Linked DNA regions of Homo sapiens: regions 1 and 2 are each reported to be linked to region 3. Evidence: microRNA targets listed by miRTarBase, many of them from high-throughput screens and not tested one by one. Region 3 holds a microRNA gene; each other region holds the end of a gene's coding sequence.
What was found. Region 3 holds the annotated microRNA hsa-miR-4451 (UGGUAGAGCUGAGGACA, at 1,043-1,059, opposite strand). A microRNA usually pairs through its seed, bases 2 to 8, with sites in the 3' UTR of a target mRNA and lowers its output. Matches are read on the target gene's strand: a 7mer-m8 pairs with bases 2 to 8, a 7mer-A1 pairs with bases 2 to 7 and ends in A, and an 8mer does both.

Region 1: miRTarBase lists RNFT1 as a target of hsa-miR-4451. The part of its 3' UTR that is shown has no 7-base or 8-base seed match.
Region 2: the mRNA of RAB40C is a reported target of hsa-miR-4451. Seed matches in the 3' UTR shown: 7mer-m8 at 2,558-2,564.

The regions. Positions count from the first base shown.
Region 1 is chr17:59,949,464-59,953,684 of GRCh38, reverse strand. RNFT1 (ring finger protein, transmembrane 1) reads left to right here. Exons shown (of 9, transcript NM_016125.4): 9 at 574-1,445. The coding sequence ends at 708. RPS6KB1 (ribosomal protein S6 kinase B1) reads right to left here. Exons shown (of 15, transcript NM_003161.4): 15 at 3,111-4,221. Among named protein-coding and RNA genes, the nearest start is that of RNFT1, 13 kb to the left of the region's middle.
Region 2 is chr16:627,169-631,362 of GRCh38, reverse strand. It overlaps RAB40C (RAB40C, member RAS oncogene family), which reads right to left. Exons shown (of 6, transcript NM_021168.5): 6 at 2,095-4,021. The coding sequence ends at 3,741. It overlaps WFIKKN1 (WAP, follistatin/kazal, immunoglobulin, kunitz and netrin domain containing 1), which reads right to left and starts at 378. Exons shown (of 2, transcript NM_053284.3): 1 at 1-378. The coding sequence starts at 109. RefSeq lists enhancers at 285-1,019, 1,200-1,494, 1,020-1,753, 3,223-3,956 and a silencer at 3,586-3,836.
Region 3 is chr4:85,719,353-85,723,573 of GRCh38, reverse strand. It overlaps MIR4451 (microRNA 4451), which reads right to left and starts at 1,106; the gene lies at 1,041-1,106. ARHGAP24 (Rho GTPase activating protein 24) reads right to left here. Exons shown (of 10, transcript NM_001025616.3): 3 at 1,602-1,689. LOC124900728 (a long non-coding RNA gene) reads right to left here and starts at 1,584. Exons shown (of 2, transcript XR_007058169.1): 1 at 562-1,584; 2 at 1-456.

The DNA.
Region 1 (4,221 bases), not on the chromosome of region 3:
CAGTTATCATACTTAATCTTAAAGGTGTCACCTAAGGATAGCTTTTATGGTTAAATGGATGGTACAGCCAGAACACTAGTGGCTCTACCAATCATACTGCTCTTTGTCTTCTTGAATGTCTCATACGTTCTCCATTTTCACAATTGTAAAATGAGGGGATTAGTGCTCTTCAAAATCCCTTTCAGGCTGGACACAGTGGCTCACGCCTGTAATCCCAGAACTTTGGGAGGCTGAGGTGGGTGGATCACCTGAGGTCAGGAGTTCAAGACCAGCCTGACCAACATGGTGAAACCCTGTCTCTACTAAAAATAAAAAAACTAGCTGGGCATGGTGGTGGTGGTCACCTGTAATCCCGGCAACTTGGGAGGCTGAGGCAGGAGAATCACTTGAACCAGTCGGGGGCGGAGGTTGCAGTGAGCCGAGATGGTGCCATTGCACTCCGGCCTGGGTGACAGAGCAAGACTTCAGTCTCCATCTCAAAAAAAAAAAAAAAAGAATCCCTTTCATTCCCTACAATGTGATGGATTTAAAATGATTATCAAATATCAAATCTAATTCTTAATTCCATTACAGCATATATTTTGTGAAGAGTGCATGACCTTATGGTTTAACAGAGAGAAAACATGTCCACTCTGCAGAACTGTGATTTCAGACCATATAAACAAATGGAAGGATGGAGCCACTTCATCACACCTTCAAATATATTAAGTTGTATAAACTATCAAGGCCACAAAATACTAATGTCATTTGGTCATAATGACTACTGATAAGGCATCAGAATGGATTTTCAGGGCTACCAGAAAAATGTTTCCAGATGGTTTTAGAATGTAGGACTTATGATCCAATTCACCAAAAGATTAAATGAAACCACCCTGTGTTTTAAAATATATATAATGTTCAACCTAATGTATATGCAACATTTATTCTATTCTAATTATTTGACAGGTAACTGCAGTGTTAAATTGTAAATGTGTTTTCTTTATGTTACCAAAACAGCAATTTGAAATTAGAACTAGTGGTTTTAGAGAACTCAGGTATTCTTTCCTGACATTGTTTTCAGAATAAAGAATATTTTTCATAATATTTTAAGATACATACTATCTAAAAGTAGAATTTTGTTCAGCATTGACTTTTATAATTCCCATCCTAAAAATTCTTAATATTTTCATAAAATTTGTATTTTTAAATGAAAATTCTAAATGTTGTATTTTATCAGTAACATTTTCTAAGTGAAGATTAATTTACTGAGGATGATACATTATAGTATTGTATTATTCTCTGTAGTAAGATTAGTAATAAGTGAAAATAAATGATTTAAATTCATTTTGTCTCTGGACGTCATAAATTCTTCCTGCCATCAGCTTTAATGTTCATGATCATGCTTTTTGTATAGTACCATGGAGTATCTCGAAGTAACTATTAAAATAATTCATGTGGATTATAAACAGCTGGCTTACTTGATGATTTGAATAGTATAGAAAACAAGACAAATGGCCAGGCATGGTGGCTCACACCTGTAATCCCAGCACTTTGGGAGGCAGAGGCAGGAGGACTGCTTGAACCCAGGAGTTCAAGACCAGCCTGGGCAACATCCCATCTCTATTTAAAAGAAAAAAGTTTCAAGACAGATGCCCTAAAATCTTATAAAAAATTGCCCTTATAATTAGTCTTCTCCATAAAAGTTTTGGAATTTTATGCTTGAATCACCATCAATTGGAAGATTGAAGCTCGCACTGAGAGGTGGTCATGAGGTTTTGATAGTGTGGTTTGTTCGCCTCTAGGTATTTGTGCAGGGTGCTAGAAAAGAGAATGAAGCACTTTCTCCCCTTGTTACCTCTAAGGAGGAATCTGAAATCTAAAACATGTCTGAAGGGCTGCTAGTGCTTATATCCAAGTTTAGAGTACATCTATCAGTTTGTAGTCGAGGAAAAGGTGGTAGAAAGAACTTAGGAAGCAGAGGTAGAAAACAGATTTGCTGTACTGATAAGACAAAAGCTAAACTAGCAAATGAATTGTTTAGTTTAGCAAACTGACCAACTGGTTATAGAAGGCACTTCCATGACTGTACAGCCATCCAAATTGACAAACAAACATTAGGAAGCCTGTACCATTTTTTTCTCTCCAGGTAAATACTACCAGGTTGTAAGTACAACTATATTCAATTACAGTATATTTTACTCTGTTATCTACTTTGAGACCCACTACAAATATTATTTAAATGGCTTTGTGGTGATGCTAATAGTTGTATTATTTAGGTATACGGCAGAGGATGGGTGAGAAAAGCAATGTGGGATTACAATTCGGCTGTGAAGGATAGCCAAGATGACTTCCTGTTCAAATACAAGAATAGCATTTTACTTCAGCCCTATTAGAATACCTATTTAATACATTTGCTTACTCTGTAACTATTCAGACAGCACTGTTTCTTAATGAATGTGATTACATAACCAAGGAGGTGCATGGTGGGGTTTTTTTTTGGAATGCAGTTTACCTATAAATTGAAAAGGGAGAAAATCTAATGGAGCTATGCCATCCAATAAAAATGCTGATGAACTGGAAGCATTTCTTCCATCCCTCTATTCCTTCACCTCAAAAACAGGTAATGTAGATTCAGAAACTCATTTACTCTGTGAATTCAGATCATGGCTTCTAAAAGATTGTTTTACCAGTATTGATAGGCTACTATGTTGTATAGCAAGGTAAGATCAGTTTGAGAGCTTCTGTAGAGAAATCCCCTTGGCAAGTGTGGTATAATTACCTCACAGAAAAGAAGTGGTTAATGCAAAATACCCAGCTTACACTAGATATATTGAGACATTAGTTAAAACACATTTGTTCACTACGTTATTTTGTGCATACATATCAAATTATCAAATGTAGCTGACCAAGTGTAGCTGAACAGATTGTTGATTGTTAGCACAAGAAGGTCTTCCTAGAGTTTTTTATGAAGCTAGCTTTCACGTAGATTGTTACATGTATTTTTTTAAGTAAACAATTCATATCTACTATCTGACATAACTTGAAAATCAAAGATGTGTAACATCTAACTTAAAAATCAATACTAAAACTTGTTATATACTTAAATAGCTTCAGTTTCTCAGCAGAACAGCTTTTAACCCATTCCTTACATACATAGTTTATTTATATGACAACTTGAACACATCTGACATGTTAAAATAAATTTAAACCATTTATACACCTGATACGTATACTAATTCCTTCCTATCTTTAAGATAATAAAAAAATAAATCACTTCTATTTATGTTCATTCAAATTTGCATTTAATTTCTATTTACATTCATTCAATCCGAAATCAAATAATACAGTCAACTAAATACAAGATGAAAAGCAGAACAGGTGTTACCCTCATAGCACTCCTAATAAGGCAGCTGAAGAATTTTATTTACTGATAGATGCAAAGCGAACTTGGGATAGGAGAAACAATAGTTTAAAGAGCAAACACAAACATAGATGAACCCATCTTTCAGATGTTATTCCGGATAATCCACTGAGATAATACTTGTGCTATAATGTTAAGAATCACACAAGAAAAAGTACTGTATTAATCAGCAACAGACCACAGGTTATGTGTGACAAATACTTTTGTGATAGTTTGTCCAGCTTGCTAGTGTCTACTCCTATGAAAAAAGGTAGATGTTTGGACATTGATGTTTTTGAGAAATTAACCATTTTCAAAGCCTTAAAATCTATTCTTCATAAATTCAACATTTCTCATGGGAATAATCTTAGATCTAGCCCTTGTAAGCTAGGAACCATATGATTAACTGAATATTCAAAATAGGTCCTATATTAAATATATAATCCAAGGCTCAGTATATTAATACTATCTAAGATGCATCTTGTTTATAATCATTCATTACCTATAGTAAAGAATGTTGAATTTATGGAGTATCATACATGCATCCTCCACCCCTGCCCACAAATTATCTTCTATCTTAAAAAATAGTATGGAAAAATCCTTCTTGAAGGATTCAAATTAGTTAAGACCATAAAGGGGGAAAAAGAACATAATTTTCCTAAAAATCTGGTTCAAAGTTCAATAATTAATACTTTACATTGTTAATCACAGCTGGTTTATAAATCCCAGTTTAGTTATTCTGTAATGCTACAAACCTTATAAAATCAAATTAGTAAACTTCAGTGATTATATTTTAATTAAAAAACAGCATGTATAAAATAAAAAAATATCCTGTAATAGCT
Region 2 (4,194 bases), not on the chromosome of region 3:
GCTGGTTGGGGCACACGCCCGGGTGGCTCCCCAGCCCTGGCAGCAAGCCAGCCCCCGAGGTCAGCCGGAGGAGGAGCAGGAGCGGCAGGAGTGGACGTAGGGCGGGCATGAGGGCCGCCGAGCCAGGGGGCCGGGGGGTGTGGCCACCAGCCCCTCCTCGGGCTCCACAGAGCCCAGCTTCCTGCAGGCATCCACCCTCCGGGCCTGTGGTCGGTGCCCCCACCAGGACCCCGGGGCTCCCTTTTGCCCCTGAGGCTGAAGCCTGCAGCAGATGCTTGTCCTGACACCCCTGCTGGGTGGGTAACGGGGTCTCCAAGTTCTCAGAGGCCGTCTGTGTGACGCTGGTTCCTCTCCAGCTTCAGCCTGGCCCCTCTGTCTGAACCGTGCGGGGGCTCCCAGGCCCTGGTCAGCACAGGGCAGAGGGGAGGAGGTTGGGGAGGGGCCAGAGGCCCATGAGCACAGAGCCACTGGCCATGAGGGTCACCGGGGCGGGGAAGGGCTGGCTCTGGCTGGAGAGGGGGAGGGGAGGGGACCCTGTAACCTGAACCCCTTCGTCCACCCCTGGGCTGAGATCAATCTCCTTGACGACCCTCAGTAGGGTGGGGGCAGGGCCAGCAGATCCCAGCTTTTGTCCCTGGCGCCCTCTGGACCCCAGGCTCCTATGCCATGGGGGTGGCAGGCACGGGCCCTCCCCGCAGAGCGTGGCTGACCACAGCCTGGGTCCCCCGGGCCAGGTCCAGGCTGGCAACGGTCACGTGCGGCCGAGGGCTTCACTCCGCTCCGAGGTTCCTTCCCCCCTCCATGGCTGTTTCAGGGGCACAGGGGTCTGCAGGACGCCCAGCACAGCCCGGCCTCCTCTGCTCTGCTGCCCCTGTTGGAGTGGGGCCCAACCCGGCAGGACTGCATTCCCAGAGACCCCATCCCTGAAACCAGGCAGCGGGCTTGGGGCTCAGGCCTGTCCCCAAGGCGGGGCAGGTGCAGCAGGAAGAGGCCTGTGGCCACCACAAGCATAAGAACAGCCCGAAACGCTGATGCCGGAGCCTCGGCCCACGCACCGTGTAGCCCTGGACGTGGCTCCGCGTGGGATGGCACCGCCCGAGGGAAGGCCAAGTGCAAGGGCGTCTGCAGCTGAAAAGAGCAAGTGTCCCAGGGCACCAGAGCCTTGCCCTGCCCCAGCCCCCCGTCGGCGGGGCACACATCCCCAGGCTGGCTCCTCTTCGTTGGGGAGGGCAGGGGGCTGGCCTGCCTGGTGCAGCAGGACAAAAGGCTGCCTGGAATCTACCCTTCCAAACCCTCTGTGGCTCCAGATGTCTGGGGCCTCAGGGAGTGGTTCTCTTGAGACCGGATGGGAGTGTCCCCCTGACCCTGTGTCTGACCTCTGACCCAGGAGGCAGGGTAACAGGAGCCTGGTCTGGTCAGAATGAGACCCGGAGACGGCTCCAGGCGCCAGTCCCTGCTCTACAAGGAGACTGGGGGTGGGCCCTGATAGCGTGGGGGTGGGGGTAGCTAGGCCAGACCCAGCAGCAGGCGGCTGGGCTGGAGCTGCCAGGGAGGGGCTTAAGGCCCGGACATGCCCACGAAACAGCACAGGGAGGCACCTGAGCCAGAGGCTGTGGTCTGGTCCCTGTACCAACTGGAGTGCCCCGTTCCAGCTCAGCTGTGACCTCCGGGGCGTCCACACCCCCCTGGGCCGGGCATAGCAGACACCAGATTGGCCAGCGTGCAGGCGGCTCTGCTGAGCGGGCCGACTGACTGGAGGACCTGGCCCTCTGGAGTCCTGCTGCTGTTGGGGACAGTCCGCCCCAGGCCATCTGCTGCCGGGGACTGTGAGCGAGGGCTCAGCACAGCCCAGCTGGGATTCCATCCACCGGGAAGAGGAGAATGGCCGTGACCAGGCCCAGCTGCTCCAGCCCAGCTCCAGCCCTCACTTTGAGGCGAACCCAGCCAACCGCGGCAGGTCAGCCCGGTCAGCGCAGGGAACAGCAGGCAAAACAAAGGCCAGAGGTCAGTTTGCCGGGTATGAAGCAGCACTGGCCCCTGGCACGGGGCACCGCCACTGCCAGACCCACCCCACCAGACACAGCAAAACGTGGGGACCACAGCTGAATTACATTTACTGTACAAAGAACGGTTCGGAGAGAACCAGGAATGGCGGAGTGTCTAACAGCAGCGCGGGTAGTGTTGATGCCGTGAATGCAGGACCATCCAGGTCCTCAAAGTCTGTGAGGTTTGTTCATAATCCCAAACAAGGGCCCTGCTGGCAGCAACAGGACAGGTGGGGCCAGGACAGGGAAGCTGGAGCAGGAGGCCAGTGTCTTTGGGGGCTGTGGCAGGGCCGCCTGCCTGGGGTTCCCTTACTCATCTGGTAGTTCATGCAGGCCACGGCCCTCATCTCCCAGGAACGGGCCATGGGGCGAGTCCACTGGTGCCCAGTAACACCCTCCGTGGGACCACCTTGGGAAGCATGTGCCGCGGAGTCCACCACGGGGGGTCCTGGGTCCCGGGAGGGCTCCTTCTGCGTGCTGGCCATGTCGTGCCGCACGGCCTGAGGACAGGAGGTAGAGGTGAGCACCAGTGCTGTGGGCAGGCCCAGGCGATGGTGACCGTGCAGAGGGGCTGCTGGGGCAGGCATGGGCAGAAGCACTGGGTGGAGGAGCGGCCAATGGCTTCAGGAGAGAGGTGGCCGGCCCTGCGTGCCTGGGGCTCAGCATGAGCGCCGGGCTGGTGGGCCTTTGAGGAGGGGCCTAGCCTCCCGAGGCCCCCAGGTGGACGTGGACGTGGACGAGGTGGTTCCAGGCACGTCCCTAAGAAGGTCAGGATGGTTCTGATGCCGTGCAACCTCACAGGAGAGCTGCAGCTGTGGGGACCCCAGGGCCAGCGACAGAAGCTGCCGAGAACAGGAGGCTGCACGCAGGTGCCCGGGGTCTGCACCGCTGCCCATCAAGTATTCCTAAGTCTACAGATAGCTCTGCACTCTCCAGGGTGGGCGAGATGATCTGAGTTTTGAGTGGTCAATGTCCCCGAAGGTGTCACATCACAGCAGGAAGGTTCTCATCCCCACGTGGGGAGGGATTTGGGGAGCAACAAAAATGTGGGCTGCCAGGTGCACCTCCTTTCTCCCCTCTCCTGAGTGCTGCTTGGGCTCTGACCACAGGACCACACCCTCCATCCCGTGGGAGCCAGGGCCCCGGTCACCCAAGCTTCCAGAGGGAGCACCGGCCCTGTCTGCTCCCCCGGCCTCTGGGCAGCCCCGCCACTCGCAGCGCATGAATTCACAGGATGCCTTGCCATCGCGGCCGCGAGTCCCCTCTCGAGGAGTCCCAAGTGCGTCCCCGCAGCTGGCGTGGCCATGAAGTCACCAGTGCACCACCACCGGGCCACACCCAGGCTTCCCTGAAGGCCCCTTAAAAATGTACAAAAAAGTGAAGTGTTCTCTATATAAATAAGAAAGGCCAACCAGGCTCCCCGCCGGTCAAGCCCAGGCAGCTGGGGAGGCCCGGCTTGTTTCCGACCAAGATTCCCGGAAGCACCAGCAGCCCAGCCGCGCCCCCTCCTCCCGCCTGCCGCGCTTGGTCCGTGCATGCTCCTCCTCGCACCCGGCTCAGGTGTGAGGAAAGCCCGGCGCTTCTGAGGCAGCTGTGTGGACAGTCTCCACGTAGGCGGCACTGGCCTGGCGTCCAGCCAGGAGTGTCCAGCTCGAGCCCTCCTGGCATCTGCACAGGCGGCCCCGCCCATCCCCGCTAGGAGATCTTGCAGTTACTCCGCGAGCAGTTCTGGGGGGGGCTCTGGGGTGGACGGATGGACTTGGACCTCTTGAGGCTGTTGCCCTTGCTGCCGCCGCCCCCGGCCCCGCTGGCCAGGGAGTAGGAACGGCCGTGCATCATGACCGCGTTCATGCCGTTGGCCATCGAGAAGGACTTGAGGTGGCTCTTGATGGTGACGGGCAGTGGAAGCTTGTCGATGAGGTGCACGGGGGTGCAGGAGACGATGGCCCGGCAGCAGAGGTCCTGCAGGCTGAACACTGTGGGGCAGAGGGGGTGTCAGACCATGGGGCTGTGGGGGAGGAGGCCCTGTGCAGGGAGACCTGAGGTGCCCAAGAGAAGCCTGGCGGGGTCTCCACACTCCTAGAGGTGTTCCCAGGCTGGGCTCCTGGAGGACCTGGACGCCCAAACTTCTCTGCCCAGCACAGATGTG
Region 3 (4,221 bases):
CTTGAATTTCCTATAAATTTGTTTGAAAGGACAACCTTCATATTCCATATTACACAGTCTTAAACTTCTTAGGCTTTGTTCATCAAAAGCCATTATGTCATACGCACTGCATGTGAAACAGATGATTTAGAATAGCAATGTTGGAGAAGAGGTTTTATCTGTTACTTCCTGGTCTTGAAGACATGGCTCTCTCTAAAACAGTATTGAAAATATCCGTCTATATTACTTGAGAACTTCTTCACCAAAAGATGAAACCTCCTTGCAGCTAGCAGACTGAATGGAAAAGTAGACCTCTAGCATTATTGGAGATAAAGAGTCAACCATCAGTTCAATACCACGCTGATTTAAAAGCCAACATGCGCTATTGTCTGAGAATAAATCGGAAAAGACATTTCCTCTACTGATACTTCAAAGACTTTGTAACATCTGGAATCTGGTTCTATACAGGGTATTCCACTAAGAAGTAAGAATAAAAGGATTTTAATAAGGCAAATAAGATTCAGGTTTCTTAAAATATGTTCTCCCTGGAGGGAAACAAATAACACATTGCATCTGACTAACCTTTCTGCACTTCAGCTGCATTAATTCACATTTAGTCATGGATTCCATCATGAGCCAGATGAACTTAGTGCCACAGCTGTTTTCATCGAGGGGAAAATATGCTTTTCCATTTTAGATTCCCAGCATTTAATATAAATATAGGAAAAATACATTTTATTGACTGCATTATTGATAAGAACTCCACATTACTTACCCAAATAAATTCACATCCACCCTAGACTGTGATCAAATCAATATCAATATTACACAAACGGTCAACCGGAGCCAGATTCCTACCTCCCTTTTTCTTACATTGAGGGATAAGGAAAAGTTGAAGAATTGATCAAAGAGGTAGACAACATGGCCTTGGAGGAATTGTTGCTGGGTTAGTCAAAGACTTTAGTGGAGATCAGGTTCACTAAGAGGAATGAATACAGATGACTAGGAAAAACGAAAGGATGTTTCAAAAGTTTAACTGAGGGATTTGATGTCTTGGCAGAGCTGTCCTCAGCTCTACCAGCAAAACATGTGGAAGTGGTTGGTTGGGAGCAAAGCTGAGGTACAGAACTGTAATACTTGGTCAGTATTACAAGTATTAAGTAGTAAGAGTTGTTTTTTTTTGTTTGTTTGTTTTTTGTTTTTTTTTTTGTTTTTTGCAAAACCTCCTTGAAGATACAATTTTGTGAGGAAATATGTCAGTGATTCCACTGGGCAAAGCATTCAACCTATAACCCCTTGTCAAATTTCACATCACAAGAGCGCTGTAAAATCAAATTCATCTCCAATAGTCCTGAACAAATACTGTATCATGACTTGTGGTCAACTATGGAGTCTCATGGACAAATGAAAATCCAGTAGTTATGTGGTCAGAGTATGTGTGTGTGAGTGCATTCATTTGTACTAGTATATAAACCTGCAGTCATTATCTGCGTCAACACTAACCAAGCCTCAAATTAAGGTTCTCAGTCATGATTCAAAAAAGAATGAAACCTGTCTGACCCATCTTCACCTTTACCAACACAGGATGACAATAATTTAATCAGACTAGGAAAATATCTTACCTGGAACTACTTCAAAAAGGAACTTCCCTGGGTTCTCTTCATTGCAGGGATGCTCAGAAACTTTATTTCCAGGCAGAAAAATAGTACCCTGTGAAAACAAATACCCAAAACATCAACATCATCAGAGAGCAAACATCATATATCATCATTATAATCAGTGAATATCCAAGGTGTAGCTATAACCCAGTATACAGTAAGATGCATCAGAATCTTTTATATTCCCAATAATCAAAAATTATGTGCCAGAATCATGTTCACTCAAGATTTAACGAATACTTGTTGAGCATCTAATATGTATAAGACTAATATGTATGTTAGCTGCTAGATTCATCTTAAGCACCAATTTATTAAACACATTCTGTGTGCCAGAAATTTTACTAAGCATTCTACCCGCACCATATTATTTAATTGGTAGTATAATCTTATGAGGTAGATATTCTTTTCCCCATTTTATAGCTGTGAAAACAAGGTAGACTTAGACATAGTTGTGATAAGCCTTCTCTTGATTATCTCTTCTCTCTTCTCTTTCTTTCCTTTTCTTTCTTTTCCTTTTCTTTTTTTTTTTTGTTTGTTTTTTGAGATGGAGTTTTGCTCTTGTCACCCAGGTGGGATTGTAATGGCATGATCTTGGCTCGCTGCAACCTCTGCCTTCCGGGTTCAAGAATTCCACTGCCTCAGCCTCCTGAGTAGCTGGGATTACAGGCATCTGCCAGCACACCCGGCCAATTTTTGTATTTTCAGTAGAGATGGGGTTTCACCATGTTGGCCAGGCTAGTCTCGAACTCCTGACCTTAGGTGATCCACCTGCCTCGGCTTCCCAAAATGCTGGGATTACAGGCATGAGCCACCACGCCCAGCTATCCTTTCTCTATCTTTAAATTTCTCTCTTTAGTGGATCATTTCATTCAGTGCTGAGATATACTTAAAAGTCTGTGTCATTAAAAAAAGTACTTTGACTTCCCGCTATTCTATTTTTTTGTTTGCCTACTGTCTATACTGAATCTATTTCTTCACTGTACCCACTGCAGCCTGGTTGATGCACCCAGCATTCCACTTACATGACTCACAAGCTGCGTGTTTGATAATGTTCACTTTTCAGTGACTTGACTTTCTAGAAGTGTTCATCACTATTGACCACTCTTTCCTTGAAGCACCTTCTTTCCTTTGTTTCTTTGTTTTCTCTAGGTTTTTCCCTAATTTCTCTGTTGTCTGAATGTCTTTTGCTGACTCTAATTGACCTTTAAATATTAGAGTTTTTAAAAAGATTTATCCAATAATTTCTTCTCTTCTGACTCTAGTACTCTCTTTCTCCAGGCTATCTCATCCAGGCCTATGATTTCAATAACCAACTGTAAGCCAATGAATATCGGAGTAATATTTCTAATCTAGGACACTCTGAGCTTCAGATACATTCAAAAGCTTATTTGACATTTCCACTTATCTCAAAGATGTCTTAAACTCAACTTAGTCAAATTAAAATGCAAGTAAATCTGGCTCTCATTATGTATTCCCCAGCTCAGTGACTGTCACCCTCTTCTATGCAGTTGCAAAAGCCAGAAATATAGAAATCATTATCTCTACTATGTATCTCTACTACTACCACTCTCTAATTTCAGGCAACTATTATCTCTTGTCTGAAATTTTTCAAATGCCTCTTCACTGAATTCTCCAGAATATTCTGACATCTTTCTTTTATTATTATTATTATTATTATACTTTAAGTTCTAGGGTACATGTGCACAACGTGCAGGTTTGTTACATATGTATACATGTGCCATGTTGGTGTGCTGCACCCATTAACTTGTCATTTACATTAGGTATATCTCCTAATGCTATCCCTCCCCCATCCCCCCACCCCACAACAGGCCCCGGTGGGTGATGTCCCCCTTCCTGTGTCCAAGTGTTCTCACTGTTCAATTCCCAGCTATGAGTGAGAACATGCGATGTTTGGTTTTTTTGTTTCTGCTCTTACACTTTTTTGCTTTCTATGGCTTTCTATCATCCAGCAACTACCCTTCTATAAATGGCAGCATGCTCCCATCTACCTTAGGACAACATTCTTTCCCTGGCAATTTTATACCATTTTTAAGATTGTCTACATCTAAAATATACTTGCATAGATTCTTGAATTTTTCCTGGACTGATTTACCATTGTATGTAGTTATGTTATTTGTAAGATGAATTGATTAAAGTCCATCTCCCTCGTTAAACTGTAAGGGAAAAATAATATGTGTTTTGCTCCCTAATTTACTACCAATGCCAAGCATTTTGCCTGGCATATAGTTAACGGCTAAAAATGTGTATTGTTGAGTGAATGGGAACTGTTAACATAATGAAGCCAGTGTTAAAAACTAAGTGTGCTGAACTCAAAAGCCCATGCTCCTGTCCACTGTATTATATTGTCCATTTTTCCCAGCTCAAAAAATAGTAATATTTAGCTAAAGTAGTATTTTACTCAATTTTCAACCTACTTGGTTTGGCACAGAAAATTATAGTCCTCAGCCATTTCCCTCCTTCTGGGCTTAGACTGATAAAGCATAGCGCTCTCCAACCAAAACCCAAGAAATTGTATGTTAGAAGTATTCCTCTCCCCCCATGCCTTACAAGGTGAGGTGTTGGA